Linked DNA regions of Homo sapiens: region 1 is linked to region 2. The links come from fine-mapping of genetic effects on gene expression. A gene starts in region 2. The other region holds a variant in brackets. All regions are shown on one strand. Distances are from middle to middle.

Evidence for each region.
Region 1: its variant is fine-mapped to the expression of TBC1D17 in monocytes after Pam3CSK4 (Quach 2016, PIP 0.95). The same link has a PIP of 0.9 or more in monocytes, monocytes after LPS and monocytes after R848.

What each region holds. Positions count from the first base shown.
Region 1 is chr19:49,892,610-49,901,599 of GRCh38, reverse strand. IL4I1 (interleukin 4 induced 1) reads left to right here and starts at 4,713. Exons shown (of 8, transcript NM_152899.2): 1 at 4,713-4,765; 2 at 5,418-5,452; 3 at 5,547-5,785; 4 at 6,420-6,532; 5 at 7,131-7,332. The coding sequence starts at 5,440. RefSeq lists enhancers at 3,604-3,783, 6,178-6,227. The variant G/C (reference allele first, on the strand shown) is at 3,821.
Region 2 is chr19:49,872,223-49,882,402 of GRCh38, reverse strand. It overlaps TBC1D17 (TBC1 domain family member 17), which reads right to left and starts at 4,701. Exons shown (of 17, transcript NM_024682.3): 1 at 4,659-4,701; 2 at 4,162-4,260; 3 at 3,831-3,905; 4 at 2,001-2,124; 5 at 928-1,135; 6 at 251-362; 7 at 3-161. The coding sequence starts at 4,679. AKT1S1 (AKT1 substrate 1) reads left to right here and starts at 5,048. Exons shown (of 5, transcript NM_001098633.4): 1 at 5,048-5,166; 2 at 9,101-9,486. The coding sequence starts at 9,108. It overlaps LOC124904743 (a long non-coding RNA gene), which reads left to right. Exons shown (of 4, transcript XR_007067293.1): 4 at 229-313. RefSeq lists a silencer at 4,215-4,504 and enhancers at 3,548-4,507, 4,725-5,064, 5,245-5,884, 5,468-6,427.

The DNA.
Region 1 (8,990 bases), 20 kb before region 2:
CAGGAAGGAGGGTTCCATGGGAAGGGGGACCCTGTCCTGGGGTCAGGCCAAAGATTGGGGGACTCACTAATTCTGTCCTCCGATCCCTGAGTCCCTTCCCCAATCTGGGCCTGGACCCCCTGACTCCCACCCAGGTCCCAGGTCATCCCCTGGGCAGGCCCTGCCCACCCAAGCCTTGGTGAAAGTTTTGTGTTTGTTTTGTTTTGTTTTGTTTTTGAGACAGAGTCTCGCTCTGTAGCCCAGGCTGGAGTGGAATGGCGCGGTCTCGGCTCACCGCAACCTCTGCCTCCCAGGCTCGAGCGATTCTCCCGCCTCAGGATCCTGAGTAGCTGGGATTACAGATGCCCGCCACCACGCCCGGCTAATTTTTTTGTATTTTTAGTAGAGACAGGGTTTCACCATGTTGGCCAGGCTGGTCTCGAACTCCTGATCTCGTGATCTGCCCGCCCACCTCGGCCTCCCAAAGTGCTGTGATGACAGGAGTGAGCCACCGCGTCTGGCCAATGAAACTTTTAATACTGACCACTTAGGGTCTTTGGACAGACTCAGAGAAGAGAATGCGTATATACGTAAGGCAGGGGCCCGGTCCCCAGCACATCTGTGCAGCCCTCATCAGCATCAGCTGCCCTGATGGGCCACGAGGCCCCCAGTGGGGCCAGGGCCAGGTGTCTGGCTGCTGTATAGACATGACCTAAACCTCATCGAAACCATCATTGTGGTTCTAGAAGTCAACCAAATAAGGTAGGATTTGCCCCACCAAAGACCATTATCTGGGAGGATTAACCTTATTTTCCAGAAACTCCATCAAAAAACCAGAATACCCCCAAACCAGCTGAAGTCAACAGATACTTGACTGGGCCTTTCCTCCCCTCCGCTCCCTCCACCTGCCCCTCCCCTCCCTCCTGTCTCCCACTCACCTATCCAAACTGCTTTTCCCTAATTCCACCCTCATCCCTAAACCTAATTTAACCTGAACACCAATCTCCTTAGTATTATCAGAAATGATTCTGGAGGCTGGGCATGGTGGCTCACACTTGTAATCCCAGCACTTTGGGAGGCCCAGGTGGGTGGATCACCTGAGGTCAGGACTTCAAGACCAGCCTGTCCAACATGGAGAAACCCCGTCTCTACTAAAAATATAAAAATTAGCTGAGCGTGGTGGTGCGCGCACCTGTAATCCCAGCTACTGGGGAGGCTGAGGCAGGAGAATCACTTGAACCCAGGAGGCAGAGGCCACAGTGAACTGAGATCACACCACTGTACTCCAGCCTGGGCGACAGAGCATTCTGGAAAGGCATCAATCCTGAACCAGCTGACTTGCGCCCTCTGCTCTTCACTGGGGGCACCTGGCCTGTCTGATGTATTGCTTCAAACTAACATTAATTGGGATTTTTTTTTCTTTAATTACAAAAGTAATACATGCTGAATGAAGATGATGTGAAATGCACAAAAAAGCTCAAAGGGGCCGGGCATAGTGGCTCATGCTTGTAATCCCAGCACTCTGGGAGGCCAAGGCAGGTAGATCACCTGAGCCCAGGAGTTTGAGACCAGGCTGGGCAACATAGCAAGGCCCCGTCGCTATGAAAAAGTACAAAAATTTAGCTGTGCATGGTGGTGTGCACCTGTGGTCCCAGCTACTCGAGAGACTGAGGCTGGAGGATCGCTTAAGCCCAGGAGTTCAAGACCAGCCTGGGCAGCATAACAAAATCCCATCTCTACAAACAGCACAGAAATTAGCCAGGTGTGGCCGGGCGAGGTGGCTCACGCCTGTAATCCCAGGACTTTGGGAGGCCGAGGCGGGCAGATCACAAAGTCAGGAGATTGAGACCATCCTGGCTAACACGGTGAAATCTCATCTCTACTAAAAATACAAAAATTAGCCGGACGTGGTGGCAGGTGCCTGTAGTCCCAGCTACTCTGGAGGCTGAGGCAGGAGAATGGCGTGAACCCAGGAGGTGGAGCTTGCAGTGAGCCAAGATAGCGCCACTACACTCCAGCCTGGGTGACAGAGTGAGACTCCGTCTCAATTAAAAAAAACAAAAAAAACAAAAAACAGGTGTGGTAGTGCACTCCTGTAGTCCCAGCTACTAGGGAGGCTGAGGTGGGAGGATTGCTTGAGCCCGGGAGGTTGAGGCTGCAGTGAGCCGAGATTGTGCCACTGTGCTCTAGCCTGAGTGACACAGCAAGACCCCATCTCTCAAAACAACAACAACAACCACCCAGAAGTCCCCCAAGGTGAGCTGCACATATGCCTGGGGCCAGAGGAGTTTTGTGCAACAACCCTCTGTGATAAGGACAAGGGGATTGGTGCAGGGCCCCACCCACTCTGGGGACCCAAAAACTCCTGGGACATGCCCTGGGAGCCAGTTGGCTGTGGGCCTCCACACCTTTCCATGGTTGTTTCCACTGTTATGCGGCTGTAGGACTGAACAAGCTATTGGGCAGGGGCCGGGGACCTGGGGCCCACCCGACCTGGTGAGGAATGCCAGCACTGCCATTCCCCACTGTGGGACCCAGGTCGAGGCACAGGCGAATAAGGCCCCAATCCCGCCGCGTTCATACTTGACATGTCGCTGTGAATGAAACTCTGAGACCTAGGCCAAGCCTTTTCCCCTCTCTGTGCCCCAGGGTCCTCCTGTCCCACCCTCTCGCCATCTCCAAGCCTCAGTTTCCTCAACTATCAAATGCAGGCATTGTTGTTGGTTTTTTGTTTGTTTGTTTGTTTGTTTTTGAGACGGAGTCTCACTCTGTCCCCCAGGCTGGAGTGCAGCGGTGCAATCTCGGCTCACTGCAACCTCTGCCTCCCGGGTTCAAGCGATTCTCCTGCCTCAGTGTCCCGAGTAGTTGGGATTACAGGTGTGCACCACCACGCCTGGCTAATTTTTTATATTTTTGGTAGAGACAGGGTTTCATCATTTTGGCCAGGTTGGTCTTGAACTCCTGACCTCAAGTGATCCGCCCACCTCAGCCTCCCAAAGTGCTGGGATTACAGGCGTAAGCCACTGTGCCTGGCCTCAAATGCAGGCATTGTGAGGCTTACGATGGGTGCAAAGCCCTGAGCACCAGGCGGCCTCCAAGGCAGGTGATCGCCATGGGAACATTTTTGTCACTATTTTTTTCTTTTTTAGAGAAAGGGTTTCGCCATCTTGGCCAGGCTGGTCTCGAGCCCCTGGGCTCAAGCAATCCTCCCACCTCGGCCTCCCAAAGTGCTAGGATTACAGCAGTGAGCCTCCGCACCCGGCCCTCATTACTATTTTTTATTTTTATTTTTTATTTTTTGAGATGGAGTCTGGCTCTGTCACCCAGGCTAGAGTGCAGTGGCACGATCTCAGCTCACTGCAACCTCCACCTCTTGGGTTCAAGCAATTCTCCTGTCCCAGCCTCCTGAGTAGTTGGGACTACAGGCGTATGCCACCATGCCCGGCTAATTTTTATATTTTTAGTAGAGACGAGGTTTTGCCATGTTGGCCAGGCTGGTCTTGAACTCCTGACATCAGGTGATCCGCCTGCCTCGACCTCCCAAAGTGCTGGGATTATAGGCGTGAGCCACCCCTGGCCCTCGTCACTATTTTTGCTGACCCAAGCTCTTTCGGTCCCTGAACTCTCCAGCTCTTTGATCATTTCCCTTTGCCACGGCCTCCCGCCCCTGCGTCACATGCCTTGTTACTCACATTCACCCCCCAGCCCCTCCCGGCCATAACCGCATCCCTCTTTGATTTACTGCGGGAGTTTCCCATCTTCCTTCTTGTTAATGCCCTCCAACCCCCACCCAACCCTTGCTGCAGAGAATCTGCCTCCCTCTGGTTTTCCTCCTCACGGA[G/C]CCCCTGGCTCCCTCTCCCCCACCCCAAGGAAAGTCCCTGCTATTGTTTCTCCACCCCCACCCACTCCAAGGTGCCGCCCCACTCCCTGCCCTGAGCACTGAGGTGGTTCTTAAAGCAGGGATGGGTGAAGCCTGGGCGCTTCCCTCTGCCGGGTGGTCACTCATAGAACCCCTGAGTGCCCCTGCGGCCACAGCAGCTGGCATTTCCAAAGGAGCAGCTTCCAGTACTACCCCAGGTTCCGGCCACAGAACTTAACCTGGATTCACTCACTTGATCCTAAAACACTGTGACGTCTGTAGACGTCATTTGACAGCTGTAGACGAGAGCCACAGAGGGGAGGGCGGGCTCAGAGCCCACGTCCTGACCCCGGGACCACGGCTGCCAGCCCCACTGCTACACCCATGTAACGGAGGGGGAGACTGAGGCTCTGGGTGGCAAGTGGAGAGGGAAGTGGAACCATGGGGGGCCCTGCAGGACATGGCGACACCTGACGGAGAGGGACTTGGAGGGGAAAGTTGGCCTGGCCCAGGGACCTGTAGCCCCTCTGTCCCCGTGGGAATCAAGGAGGCAGAGAGAGTGCAGGGGAGGATAGAAACAAGTGGCCTGGTGATCAGGGACGGGGGCAAACCGAAGGGGATTCCCCGTTGTTGGCACGGTTACCTGAGCATCTATTTCTGGCCTCCAAACCACCCCAGAACTATCTGGGGCAAAAGGAAGTGAATAGACTGATTAACTTCCTCCAACCCCCTTTCTCCAACCTCAACTAGACTCTGAGCATTGGACCAGAGCAGCTCCAGGAAACCAGTTTCATTTCCCTCGGCCAGTTTCCCAAAAGGAGGGGTGGGCGGGGCTCTGCCAGTTTAAGGGGAGAGAAAGGGCCACAGCAGAGACAGTGGAGGGCAGTGGAGAGGACCGCGCTGTCCTGCTGTCACCAAGAGCTGGAGGTAGTGACACGGCCAGTGGTGGGGGGACAGAGAGACAGGACCCACAGAAATAGGGACTGAGAAGCAGTCAGGAGCTGGGGAGATGAGGAAGAGGGAAAAGAGGCCGGGCGCGGGGGCTCATGCCTGGAATCCCAGCACTTTGGGAGGCCGAGGTGGGTGGATCACCTAAGGTCAGGAGTTCGAGACCAGCCTGGCCAACATGGCGAAACCCCGTCTCTACTAAAAATACAAAAATTAGCCAGGTTTGGTTATGGGTGTCTGTAATCCCAGTTACTTGGGAGGCTGAAGTGGGAGGATTCTTGAACCTGGGAGGCGGAGGTTGCAGTGAGCCAAGATCTTACCACTGCACTCCAGCCTGGATGGCAGAGAAAGACTGTTAAAAAAAAAAGAAAGAAAGGAAAGAAAGAGGGAAAAGAAGAGAAAGAGACAGGAACCCGAGAGAGCTGTGGCAGAGGTGGAGACCGGTGAGGAGGGAGGCAGGGACGGTCCAGGGGACTCTGAAGGAATGGGGTTAGGGGACACAGGTCCAGAGAGCAGGACAGTGACTGGGGGAGGGCCGGCTCTAGCAGCTGGGCAGCCCATGGGAGACAGAGTCAGGCTACAGTGGTCACAGGCCTCAGTCACAACAGCCCTCCCTTCTCCTCCACCCCAGACACCATCTCCCACCGAGAGTCATGGCCCCATTGGGTGAGTAAGCAGGGGAGGGGCTCTGGAACAAGTGAGTAGAACCCCTCTCCCCCGACCTGCCACAACCCCGTTGACCCTGTCCTCCTCCTCCCAGCCCTGCACCTCCTCGTCCTCGTCCCCATCCTCCTCAGCCTGGTGGCCTCCCAGGACTGGAAGGCTGAACGCAGCCAAGACCCCTTCGAGAAATGCATGCAGGATCCTGACTATGAGCAGCTGCTCAAGGTGGTGACCTGGGGGCTCAATCGGACCCTGAAGCCCCAGAGGGTGATTGTGGTTGGCGCTGGTGTGGCCGGGCTGGTGGCCGCCAAGGTGCTCAGCGATGCTGGACACAAGGTGGGAAGCACTGCTTGCAGTCTACCTGGAGTCCCTCCTGCTGCAGGCTGGAGTCCCTGGGCACAGGGACACGGCCGCGTTCCTCCTTGAGGGGGTGGAGGTGGGGATGTGGGGGGAGAGGCTATCTTTCCCTGTAGTCTGGGGGTGAGGCCCAAGCCCCCTGCTGTCACATGTCTCCACTGAGAGGCCCCAGACTTTCCTGTCCCACGTTTTTCATCCCAGAGGGAAGTCTCACTGGCTCAAAGCTCCTCTGTCCTGGGGTGGGGCGCCTGTTGGTGGAGAGGGAAACTCTACCAAGGGGATGTGTGCCCTGAGGTCTAACCACTGACCTACTCACTGCAATCCGAGAATGAGAATGGGCCAGCCCAGGGGCTTCTACGCATATGGGTCATCTCCGAACTCCCCGAGCTGGGAAGTCCCTTTGCAGTCTAGCTGGCAGCCTTCCTCCTGCAGTCTGGAACTGCTCACTCAGTTCTGTTCCCCCACCTCCATACAGAAGGGGACCCTCTCCTAGTCTGGGTCTGGGCCACTGTGGGGATGGAAGAAGGCAGGGGGCTGGCACGGGGTGGTAGAGGGCAGGGGATGGTCAGTGGGTGGAGCTGAAGGGCCCTCCTCGCCCCACGGACTCCCTCAGGTCACCATCCTGGAGGCAGATAACAGGATCGGGGGCCGCATCTTCACCTACCGGGACCAGAACACGGGCTGGATTGGGGAGCTGGGAGCCATGCGCATGCCCAGCTCTCACAGGTGACCTAGCAACCCACCCACCTGTGTGCCTAGACTCAACTAGCCCCCCAGCTCCATGCCCACACCAGAGTGGGCCCGAACTTCCACTCTGACTCCCAAACCCAGCCTCCAACCCCATCCTTCGCCTAATCCTCACCTCAGTCTTGCCTCCAGCGCCAGCCCTGGGCCTCTGGCAACACTCGGGCCACCTGGTCCAACCAGACCTCCAGCTGGCCCTGCCTGGTGCAAAAGCCAGCTCCTGTGCTGGCCCCTCCAGGCCTGCAGCTCCACCATCCCCACACCCTCAGGCACCCCAGCCCCAGGCCCCTTCTTCATCTCAAACCCCCGTCCAACCCAAACTCTGTCCCCCTTCCCAATTCTAATCTGGGCTCTATCCCACTCTTAACCCAATCCTAATCCTGGTACTGCCCTGAGGCCTCCAGCCTTGTCCCCATTTCATTCCCATCCCCCAGCATTGATTACCCCAAATCTAGCCCCACCCCCAGCCTCATGCTGGTCCCCAGCTACTCTCCCCTCCCACCCCTCTTCTCCAAGTCCCACTAGGGACCAGGCCACCCCCACTGGAGCCCGGCCCTCACTCACCCACTCCCCTGATCAGGATCCTCCACAAGCTCTGCCAGGGCCTGGGGCTCAACCTGACCAAGTTCACCCAGTACGACAAGAACACGTGGACGGAGGTGCACGAAGTGAAGCTGCGCAACTATGTGGTGGAGAAGGTGCCCGAGAAGCTGGGCTACGCCTTGCGTCCCCAGGAAAAGGGCCACTCGCCCGAAGACATCTACCAGATGGCTCTCAACCAGGTGGGTACCGCCTGCACCCTCCTCCCGCCCTGACTTCTCTGTCCTCCTCCTAAGCTCGCCCCGGCCCGGCTTTTCTTCTCTCTGGCATCCCTTCAGTCCCCTCCATGGGGTGGGGCGCCTGTTGGTGGAGATGGAAATTCTACCAAGGGGATGTGTGCCATGAGGTCTAACCACTGACCTACTCACTGAAATCCGAGAATGAGAATGGGCCAGCCCAGGGGCTTCTACACATATGGGTCATCTCTCAACTCCCTTCTTTTTTTTTTTTTTTTTTTTTTTTTTGAGATGGAGTCTTACTCTGTCACCCAGGCTGGAGTGCAATGGCGCCATTTCAGCTCACTGCAACCTCCGCCTCCCAGGTTCAAGCAATTCTCTGCCTCAGCCTCCCGAGTAGCTGGGATTACAGGCGCCCGCCACCACGCCCAGCTAATTTTTGTATTTTTAATAGAGACGGGGTTTCACCATCTTGGCCAGGCTGATCTTGAACTCCTGACCTCGTGATCCACCTGCCTCAGCCTCCCAAAGTGCTGGGATTACAGGCGTGAGCCACTGCCCCCGGCCCCAACTCCCTTCTTTAGCTTCCCCGTAAACACTGCTGACCCCAAAGCTGCATCAGCTTTTGGCCTCTTCCCCTTTCACCCACACACTGTCCTGGATAACCTCCCCAGTCTCCACCTCTGGCTTAAACATAGATCCATGGGCTGATGGAGACATCTGCCTCCCGAGACCCTGATCTGTGTCCCTCCCCAGGACACTGGGCTCAGAAGCTTCCCCTAAACCTGTTCCTCCTCCCGGTGCCCCCATCTCACGATGGCCCCACCATCCCGCAGTCACGGGCAGACCCCTAGGAGCCATCCTCCTCCTGACCTCCTCCTCGCCCACCTCCCCCACCATCAGTGCCCACCCCTGCCGCCTGACGCTTGTGCCCTGCTCCCCTCTGCCTGCCCCAGCTCAGGCCTCCTCCTCTGCCCTGGACCCTCCCCCAGCCTCCTCTCAAGCTGCCCAGGCTCTAGTCTCCCCAGCCTGGTACCAGAAACGTCTTCCCACACACCCAGAGTGATGCTGCTCACAGCCCCCAGTGGCTCCCCGCTGCCTCCAGGACAAAGTCTGATCTTTTCAGGCTCAGCTTTGAGCCCTGACTGGCCTTCCCTTCTGCACCCCTCCAGCCTCATGCTCTTTTCTCCTCTAAGAAATTTTTGTCCTCATGGTGGTCCACATGCCCCCAGCTCTGTGTTCCTCACACCCACTATACCTGTGTATCACCCTCCCTTTCCAGAATGCCTTTCCCTTCCCCACACAGGAACTCCTGCTCAGCCCTCAAGAACTAGCTCCAATGTCCCCTCCTCCAGGAAGCCTTCCCTGATACCTTTAGGGAGGAACTGGCCACACCCAACATCCCCTCCCCACCCAGGTCAGAGCCCACTTGCCCATCTCCCCTTCTAGACCAGGATGGGGGCCATGTCCAGGTCATTTCTATGCCTTGACACTGACTGGTTTGGGAGTCTGAGAGATGCGAGATGCATGAGTGAGTGAAGGGGCACTGCCTTCCCTCTGAGGTCCTGGCCAGAAGGGGGAAGCCAGGTGGACCAAGAAGAAGGCTGAAATTAGATGGGGGCAGCAAGGCTTCTGGGAGGGGGTGAGATTCGAACAAAGTGCTG
Region 2 (10,180 bases):
ACACAGGAAATGACCTCGAATCCAGGCTCGGGCTCATCGTCGGGTGGCGGGGGAAGGTCGGAGGCGGCTCCCTCAGGCTGTGGCTGCAGGGCACCCCGGAAGAAGTTGGTCACTCGGGAGAAGCTGCTGAAGGTGGTGGAGTAGGGATCCTGGAGGAAGCGCTGGGGACGAGGCCAAAGGGAGGTCACGGCCCGCCCCTTCTCGTCCCTCCCTGCCCACACCCGCCAGGCCTCCTGCTGGGGACACTCACTGACACCACATTGGAGCTGTCCTGGTCAAAGAGCTGCAGGTGGTGGAAGGAGTTGGAGAGAGCAGAGGAGTCGTGGGGGAAGACAAGGTAGAGGCGGGAGTCCTGCGGGGAGCTGGGAGGCGGGAGGTGACGCACAGGTGATGCACAGGTAGGGGCCCAGTGTCCCAGGCTGTCTGTGCTCGGCCGACATCGGTTCCAGCTGCAGCGTCCCAACCACCCCTGGGCAACCCCTCATTTCAGGGAATGCTGTTAAAGGAGGCCCACAGCTGGATCCCAGGGGTGGGCACATGACTCGGGGCTGGCCAATGAGGGCCTTTCACCTTCCGGTCCAGTGTGACTGACTCAGGGACGAGCCAATGAGAAGCAGCTCTGGGATCTTGTTGGAACGTGGGGAAAGAGGTGCCTTCTATCCAGCCGGGTTGTTAAGCCACGGATACTGGGGCCCCAGAGAATAACGAACTCAGAGGGAAAAAGGATAACTGTTTCTAACATTTTGGGACCTGGGTCCTGCCTGAAATCAATACTCCTTTTTGACTTTTTAGTTATATGTGCTGGTCAACTCTTTGCCTGCCTTTAAATCAGTGTGAGTTGTGTTTCTTTCACAGCCCCGAGGGGTCACGCTGCAGCCATGGTGGGACTGGGCCCGGTTTAAGGCCCAGCACTGGGAGAGAGCTCACCTGGCCAACAGCAGGTAGCGGCTGAGGACGCGGAGCAGGGCGCGGGTGCCCCCGCGGTGGAAGTGCAGTGCGGGCAGGGAACCTCCAGCCTGGGTCACCAGAACCAGGTAGGCCCAGCTGAGGCCTGGCTTGGAGCGGCGGATGGACTTTAGCTCCCCCAGACTCACTGAGAAGGCCCAGGAGCCCTGGGGGCAGCTGGGCTCTGCACCTAGGGAGACGGCACTGTGTTGGGGGAAGCGCGTGGGAAGCCAGAGTCAGCCTTATCAACCACAACCCAGGATGTTCCTTCGGCACAGGCATCTCCTGAGGGCCCCGCCACAAGCCACCCCTCTGCCCCTGGCCTCACATTCCTTGGAAGCACAAATGAGTAAGATGGGAAGGGGGCCCAGTGGACATGTACCTTTCCAGAACCTTCCTAGGCACCCCTCGACCTGCAGGGTAAGGGCCCTATTCCTCAACCTGGCACTCGAGGCCCCTCGGGTCTGTCCTTCGCCCCTGCCTATCTTACCTCCAACCTTTCTTCACTCAAAATCCCACACTTGAGCTACAATGAAAGGCCAGCGGCTCCCTAAACACACGGGGGCCGCCTGCCTCTGGCTTGCACGGGCTGCTCTCTCTGCCAGAAGAGAAAACTCCCAAGAGTCCCTCAGTGCCAAGCTCCAGCATCACCTCTTCCTGGAAGGAATCTCCATTCCCCAGAGGGGTCACGTGCCTTCTCTGGATGTCCCCTGCACCCTGTGTGACCCCAGGATGGTGCAAATCACCCTAACTGGCTGCATCTGTCACCCCACCAGCCTCGAACCTCAGGGGCAGGCCTGGTGTGGGAGCACCCACAGCCAATCCGGGAGCCCAGTAGGATGAGCAAGGCTGCAGTCTCAGAGACACTGGCCATGTTGACCTGGGCTGGGACAGTCCTGTCTTCCCATTCACTTCCATGCTCCTGGGACTGGAAGGTGGTGACTGGTGGCCTTCTTGATTGTGGGCAGCAAAGCCCTTGGGACCGTGACCACTGAGGGCAAGATGTGTCCTACCTGGCCCACACGTGCTTCTCAAGGGCCGCCACCTCAGCCTACCTCTCGTGGGCTCTGAGTGGCAGAGCTGTGGCCGCACAGTGCTGATGACAGCCCAGTCAGGTTCATAGCCGGGGTCAAAGGTTGGTTCCTCCTCAGAAGCACATGAGTCACCCCCACTGGAGTCCTTAGGAGAGGAAAGGAGCAGACAGTAAGGGGCCATGGATTCAGATCTTAGCCTCGAGGCTACCCTGGAAGATAGCCCCATTGAATAAAGAGGGAAACTGAGGCACAAAGAAGGTACAGCAGGCCGGGTGCGGTGGCTCACGCCTGTAATCCCAGCACTTTGGGAGGCTGAGGCGGGCGGATCACCTGAGGTCGGGAGTTCGAGACCAGCCTGACCAATATGGAGAAACCTCGTTTCTACTAAAAAAATACAAAAAAATTAGCCAGGCATGGTGGCGCATGCCTGTAATCCCAGCTACTCGGGAGGGTGAGAAAGGAAAATCGCTTGAACCTGGGAGGCGGAGGTTGCAGTGAGCTGAGATGGCGCCATTGCACTCCAGCCTGGGCAACAAGAGCAAATTCTGTCTCATTAAAAAAAAAAAAAAAAAAAGAAAAAAGAAAGTACAGCACTTGCTCAGGGTCACCCAATGCAGCCAGAGAGCGAGCCAGGACTTGACCCCATGTCTCCCACTGCATGGGGAGGTCCATGCTACACAGCAGGTGGCTCTGCAGTCAGGCTGCGGAGTGCTCAATGGACACTGTTGTACTCACCAGGTAAATACAAACCAAAACCACAATAAGATACCACTTTGCACTCTTTTGAGACAGTGAGACTGTCAAAAAAAAAAAAAAAAAACAATAACAACAACAAAAAAAACACACTACATTTCCCAGGTTTCTTTGCAGCTGGAATCCAGGACACAGGACAAATTCTACCAACCAGATGCAGGCCAACCTGGAAAGCGGAAGTGATGTAACGCAACTTCCTGGTGCCTTGGCTGTGTTTGGCTGTGGAGCAAGGTGGAGAGTCATCTTCATCTTCATCTTCATCCTCCTGCCCTGGGGCAGCGCAGGTGGTCAGCTCAGCCTTCCAGTGTCTCGTCACTAGCTCTGTGGGTGCCGACTGACTTCCGGCCCCTGGGTGGAACTCATCAGCTCCAATGGAGGTCTCATTCCCCACTAAAGAACCCCCCTACAGAGGCATCCAACTTCTCCGTGTGCCTTGAAGGTTGTTCTGCTGTCCCTGAAATACCTTCTTGTCCTTTCATATCCTGGGAGTCCCAGCTCAAATGTCTGCTCTCCCAGGAAGCGTTGGGGATCTGGAATCAGACTGTCTGGGTGCAAAAAGTTCCAACACTTCCTAGCGTTTTCGACCTCATCTATCAGTTTCTCAAAAAGTGAGTAAGGGTCAGGGCTTAGGTGGGTCTGGATCTGACTTATCTCTGGGTCTCAGAATTGCCCAGGACGGGGTCCAGCCATGGGAAGTCCCAGGAGACATAACGAAGGGAAAGCCGGGAGCAGTGACGAAGTGGGTGAGTAGGCTGTCAGGCCCTGTCCTCTGGCACCAGAGGAAATGCCATTTCCCTTCAAGCAACTCGAATCCACATCTTGCACCCTGGCAGGGATCTCCCAAGAAGCAAAGGGAGAGAGGGGTCAGCCGTCCCCACGACCGTGCGTCTTATGCTCCCTGCTCTTTTTCCTTGAATGGGCATCCTCTGCCCATTTCACAGAGAGGAGCAAAAGGAGAGGCAGAGTACCCAAGCCTAAACAGGGTCACACATGCCCCACGAGTAGGTCTGGGATTGTACGCAGGTCCCTCAAATGACTTACAACAGCACGGACCTAGAAAAAAAGCGAGTGGAGAAGGGCAAAGCGGGTGGAGCCTACCTTCTTGGAGAAGAGGATTTGGGTGGAATCTCCAGCCTCCTCTACAGGAGCCCAGTGCAGGAGGACGTCATTGTCCTAGGGTAAGGAGGGAGGCGGGGTTAGAGGCGCTCCCCAAACCACATTCCCAAAACTTTCCGTTGCAAATTTCCAAACTTTCCCAGTTTCTACCCTCAGCCTTTCAAAGTCCCGCCCCTCATTCCAGTTCCCACACCCAGCCTTCTTCAGGTCCCACTGCTGACCGCCAGACCAAACTCCTACAGCTGCCGCCTGCATCCCAGACCGCCTGCATCCCGCTCGGAGCGGGTCCGAGCCCTGCTCCCTCCCAGCGCACCTTTTCCACGACACGGATGACACCAGCGATGAGAGAGTCTCGGTCCTGATACTTCTTAGCGCTGGTGTGCAGGTACACTCCGCCCTTCTCAAACACCACCTGAGTTGGGGGGAACCAGCGAGGGCTGGGGCCCAAGCGAGGGGACCAGCCTGGGGAGCCAATAGGGACGGGCCCAGGGAGGAGCCACCCTCAGGGGGCGGGGCCGGGAGGGCCATTGCCCCGGGACCAAGGCGGGGAGAATGGTCCAGCCCGCGTTCGGATGCTGACGTGCGTTCCACAGGGGGCAGGGCTCAAGGAGTCGCCTGAGCCGGGGGGGCGGGGCCATGGGAGGTTCTTCCCTGGGGCGGTGGACGGGAGGGTGACGGCGCGTTTATAAGAGATCGGTGTTTGCCAAGGCCGTGCCGGATTCTCGAGAGCCAAGGCCTGAGAGAAGAGCTGATCACTAGACGGGGCGTTTCGCATACACTGAAGCGAGGGAATGCGTCCTCAGTGCTTACCCTGTAGCCGGCTCCTTCCATAGTCGCCGCCGAAGGCCCCACTGCCCCGCCTCCTCCTTTTCCTAGTCAGCGTGTTGTCACTTCCGGAGAAAACAGTTCCCCTCCGGGCCGGACAGTGGTAGCGGCCCGACCCGTTCTAGAGAAGGAGCGGGTGAAACCATTTTTCAGAAGGGGGTTATTCCACTGGAACCTCGAGGGTGGATCGGAGTCACGTGGCGCAGACGCTGAAGGTGGATCCGGCTACGGAGAGTGCGCAGGCGCAGTGTTCGCCCTCTCGCCACGAAGTAAACAAGTGGGAGGGTCTGAGAGCTGCACCACCTGGGGCAAGCACGCCTTGAAACGCCCACTTCCTTCTCCATATTGTATACTGGAATTGAAGCCAAGGAGGTACCATTTTGCTCGAGGGCATGGCCTAAGCCGGTCAGCTAAGGCCATGTTAATACGGGGCTGTCCCATCTCTCTGCGGGGCGCGACAGCTGGAAGAGCCGAACGGATAAGAGAAGAGGAGGTGAGAGGAGCTGTACACCACAAGAGGCACTGAGGGACTCAGGATAACGGGATGAAGCCGTCAGTGCCCCCAGAAACGAAGCGGCCCCGGACGAATTTCTGAGTCACCGTCGCGAGAAAGCGGGCTGAGCCGCCATTTTGAAGCCTGGCAAACCGAAGCAAGAAATGCTGCCGTGTTGGATCTTTGCCAGCCTTCGTGCCGAATGGGAGCAGGTTGGAGGGAGGGAGAGCCAATATACACTATGGGCTGATTAAGCCCGGTTGGCTGCCATGTTGTTAACGAGCACCGATTTCCTCTACTTTTGTCGAAGAAGTTTATTGTGGGTCAGGGACGTCAGGTCGCTTGCCTTCGTTTACTGTGGTCATGATTGAGCATATGAGGACGGCCATTATTGTTGGGGGCAAATGGAAATGCTCTAGGCGGGGCCATTTTTCTTAGGGGCAAGCTGTCGTCACCCTTGTCAACTGGTTCGGATGAAGCCCCTGTGGCCGCCATCTTGATCTCGGGCGGCCCCGATAAGGGAGGCGGAGTGTGCGGAGAGGAGGCGGGGCAACTGCGCGGACGTGACGCAAGGCGCCGCCATGTCTTTTGAGGGCGGTGACGGCGCCGGGCCGGCCATGCTGGCTACGGGCACGTGAGTGGAGGCGGCGTTGTTAACCGCGGTGTGGGGAGGATTTGGCCGTCCTGAGGCAGCGGGGCGCTGGGAGGGCGAGCGGCTCACGGGAGGGGTATGGCCTGCACAGATCAGAGGGCAGAGGTCTGCCAGCGATCCTTTGCTGAGCGCTGGAAGGGGGTCGCCCGTGGGAATCGTCCTGTCAGACCTGAGGCAAATCGTAGACAGTCTCACCTTGCGGTTCCAGAGCGCCTGGGATCTCTACCTGGGCCGTGGACCACGTCCACGGGGTCGGGGGATGGTTTGGGGGGCCTCGGGGCGCCCCTCACCCGTCCAAAGGCGGGACTTCCGGTCCTGGCCTCCGTCTGGGCGGGATTTCCTGTTTTCTTCCTAGACCAGTGGGTCCTCCCTGGACCCCGGGCGAGGTTGGGAGGTCTCGGGGCAGCTGAGCGTGGCCCCAGGCGCTCACCCCATGGCTACCGCGTTCATGCTCAGGTTCCTCACATCTTGGGGTGTGGGGTACTAAAATTTCGACAGGAGGGGTGGTTCCACCCCTCTCCTCCTTAGCTCTTTTCCCTCCTCCCTGCATCCAAAGAGGACAGCCACATCGTGCTCCCCCTCCTGTGGGGAACACGTCTCACTTTCCTCTAATCTCTCCCTGATCTTACACGAAACTCGTCTATCGGGGCGGGTTCTTCCTCCATCTCTCAGCTCCTTGGAGGAAACAGGACCTCCTCTAGAAGCTGAAGGGTAAGGAGGACCCCCAGGTCTTGGCTACTCTCCTGTTGGGTAGCATTACAGGGTGCCCCTGGACCTTGGCAAAGAGGTCTGTGGAAGTCGCCCTGTCCTTTTTGCTCATGTCTCCTGAGTTGGGGGAGCCCTCACAACTCACTCACCCTATTTCACTCTTTAATCCCGTGGCTACTCCAAGATTGAGTACACGGAGAGTTCATCCTGACGTTCTCTTCCGGGACCTCCTCTCCCCCTCTTCTCCGCATGTCATTAGGGGCTGGAGGCCCGTGGAAGTGAGAGCCCCAGGCCTAGCACGGCGAGGCAGTTGACTTTGGACCAGCCATTTCTTGCTTAGAGCCTCAGTTTCCTCCCTCATCAGCTGGGAAGGACATGGGTGTGTTTGAGACACCGGGTACCCCCCAGTTCAGTGGGGTTTTGGGGCTGGGCAGTCAGCAGTTTCAGCCCCACTTGTGCCCTGTGTAGCTGTGTGCTTTTTTGCCAGTGTCCTAAGCTCTCTGAGCCTCACAGTTTCAGCCCCACTTGTGCCCTGTGTAGCTGTGTGCTTTTTTGCCAGTGTCCTAAGCTCTCTGAGCCTCACTTTTCCATCTGGATTAGAATATCTGCCCTCCTAAAGGCAGGCAGGATGGCGGTCAGGATTTAGAACAGGCCCCGGATCTAGACTTTCTGAGTCCAGGTCCCAGCCCTGCCTCTTCCAGTTGTGGCCCTTCAAGATGCTGACTGCCCCTGGGCCTGAGTTTGCAACTGTAAAATGGGGTGAACTGTAACTAAAGCTCCTGTCTCATAGTGTAGGTGAAAGGGTGGGATGAGAAGGTTGATCCCATCTTGGGTCCTTGCGTGGCTTCTGGGAGGTGGTGGATAAACCTCTTCCTTCCCTTGGGGCTTTGAACTCCCTGAGTGAGTCAGATAGGTGAGATGCCAGGTGTGGAATCCCAGCACTGAATAGGTGCTCAGCAAACACCAACATCAATGATCGTGAGTCATAAAAGGCCTGCAAATTTCATTCAGACTCCAGACTCCCTGCTCCCTTCACCCTGGTGGGCTGGACCACAGCTGTGCCTGAATCCGTGCAGTGGCGGTGTGCTTACTGCCTCCCGGAAGAGCGTCTTCCGCAGCCCAGCAGCTCTGGCTCAACCACGCTGGTTAATGGGGAAGAAAATGAGGCACAGAGAGGGCCAGTGAGCCATCTAAGGTCACACAGCAGGTTTGAGACAGAGTCAGGGCAAGGACCCAGCCCCCCTGCCCTCGCTCTTCTCACCCAGTAAGGAGACGCACCCTGCATTGTCTGCTTAGGGCCGACCTGTCCTGCAAACACAAATCCCTGACCTTGGGGGAATTCACAGTCTGATGCAGGAGGCAGCCAGGTTACAGCTGTCACAAGCTCAGGTGACATGAATGCTCATGGAGGAAGCCCAGGGCATCGGATGGGCTCCTGAAGTCATCTGATGCACCCTGGGGGATCAGGGACAACAGAGGACCTGCCAGAACAGTCTTGTAGGAAAAGCCGTGTGGATTTCCCAGCACAGAGAGCAGCGCCAGCACCATTTCAGCCCCGACTCTCTGAGGCCTCAGTCATAGAACCAGCCAGTTCCCTCTGGAAGGAAGTGTGCTGGGAAGGTGGCCACTCAGACAGTGTGGGACCCCCTATGGAGCAGACTGGCTGGATCTATGGGCGAGGGAAAGTTTCTTCCACCCTAGGATGAGTGAAAGGTTGGTGGGGAATGGAGCACAAGTCATCAAGGTCAGGGACCACGTTTTCTGAAGGCCTCGGGCCTCAGAGGCTCTGGAAGGCCGTGGAGGCAGGATGGCCCAGGAGCTGGGGATGGCCAGAACACCTAGAGCCTCCAGGGCCTGCCCTGAGGACTATGGCGAGGAGTAGCATCAGCTCCGGGTGCTGAAGGAACCCCCTGGGCCTTGTGCAGGACACTCTTGACGGGATGGCTGGGCGACGGAGCAGGGTGGCATCATCCATCAAATTCAACACAAGCCCCACGTGGAATTCTAAATTTTCTAGACACCATGTTAAAAGAGTAAAAAAAGCAGATGAAATTCCTTTTTTTTTTTTTTTTTGCCCAGGCTGGCTTCGAACTCTTGGGCTCGGTGATCCGCCTGCCTCGGCCTCCCAAAGTGCTGGGGTTGCAGGCCTGAGCCACCACGCCCGGCTCGTTCGGCTTTATTGTACTCAGTCTTCAGAACCCAGTGCAGGTTTTATTGTTAGAGGCCTCTCTGCTAGGACTCTCTGCTAGGACTCCCTGCCTTTCCAGTACTCCCTGTTCACATGTGGCTGGCGGCTCCCACAGAGGCCAGGGCAGGGCCAAAGGGGAAGGAGTACAGTGACTTGGGGCAGGAGGAATGGGTTGGGGCAGAGGACGTCGCCAGGGTCTGGGCCTGCGAGGACTGGATGGTGAGAATCCTGGGGAGTAGCAGGTTTGGGGAGGACACACAGCACCGCTGGGACAAGGTGGGTGGAGGGTGGTGAGTGCCATCCAGGGGACGGGCGGGCACTCTGAGTGGGTGGCGATGATGTAGGCCGCCAAGCCTCAGCCCCCTCTGTCCTGCTCTGGCCCGCAGGGCGCGGATGGCGTCGGGGCGCCCCGAGGAGCTGTGGGAGGCCGTGGTGGGGGCCGCTGAGCGCTTCCGGGCCCGGACTGGCACGGAGCTGGTGCTGCTGACCGCGGCCCCGCCGCCACCACCCCGCCCGGGCCCCTGTGCCTATGCTGCCCATGGTCGAGGAGCCCTGGCGGAGGCAGCGCGCCGTTGCCTCCACGACATCGCACTGGCCCACAGGGCTGCCACTGCTGCTCGGCCTCCTGCGCCCCCACCAGCACCACAGCCACCCAGTCCCACACCCAGCCCACCCCGGCCTACCCTGGCCAGAGAGGACAACGAGGAGGACGAGGATGAGCCCACAGAGACAGAGACCTCCGGGGAGCAGCTGGGCATTAGTGATAATGGAGGTGAGAGGGTGGGGGCAGGGGCGGGTGCGGCCCAGCGCTTGAGGTGCCCGCAGGAGGCTTTGTCGGGGTGGGGGCCTGCTTAGCCCAGAGTACTTCTACAGAAGTGCAGTCTCAGGACCCCAGAGCCAGACAGGCTTGCCTGGGGCTTGCTGTGTGATCTAAAGCCAGTCCCTTCCCTGCTCTGAGCCTTACTGGTCCTGGGGCCAGCTCTGTGCTGGGAGTGGTGGGCACAAGGACACAGAGCAGGCTCGGGCTTTTTTCTCAAGGGGCTCCCGGTCTAGCCAAGGAACTGGAGTCCCGGTGGGGGTTGGGAGGCTCTGGGGCAGGTCATGGGTAGAACCAGAGTCGTTTCCACAACGCCTGGGAGGCCAAGCAGGAGTTAAAGAGTTGTCTGGGATGCAGCCAACATCTGAGGAAGCCAGGGAGGGAGCAGCCAGCTGTTTTGGGGGGAATTTGGGGGTCGGGCACTTCCCGGAGGCTGGACTGTAACGCTAGGGCTTTGCGGAGTTAGTAGGAGTTTGATCAGTCACTAGGAGGTCCTTGTTTGTTGTTATTACCAATGGCAGGCCTCCTCACCATTGCTGGAGAAAACCCGTGTAGGGTGAAGGGCAGGCATCCTGAGTTCAAATCCTGGTGGTGTCCCTTAGTAGCCATGGGACCTCGGGCAAGTGACTTAACTTCTCTGGGCCTCCAG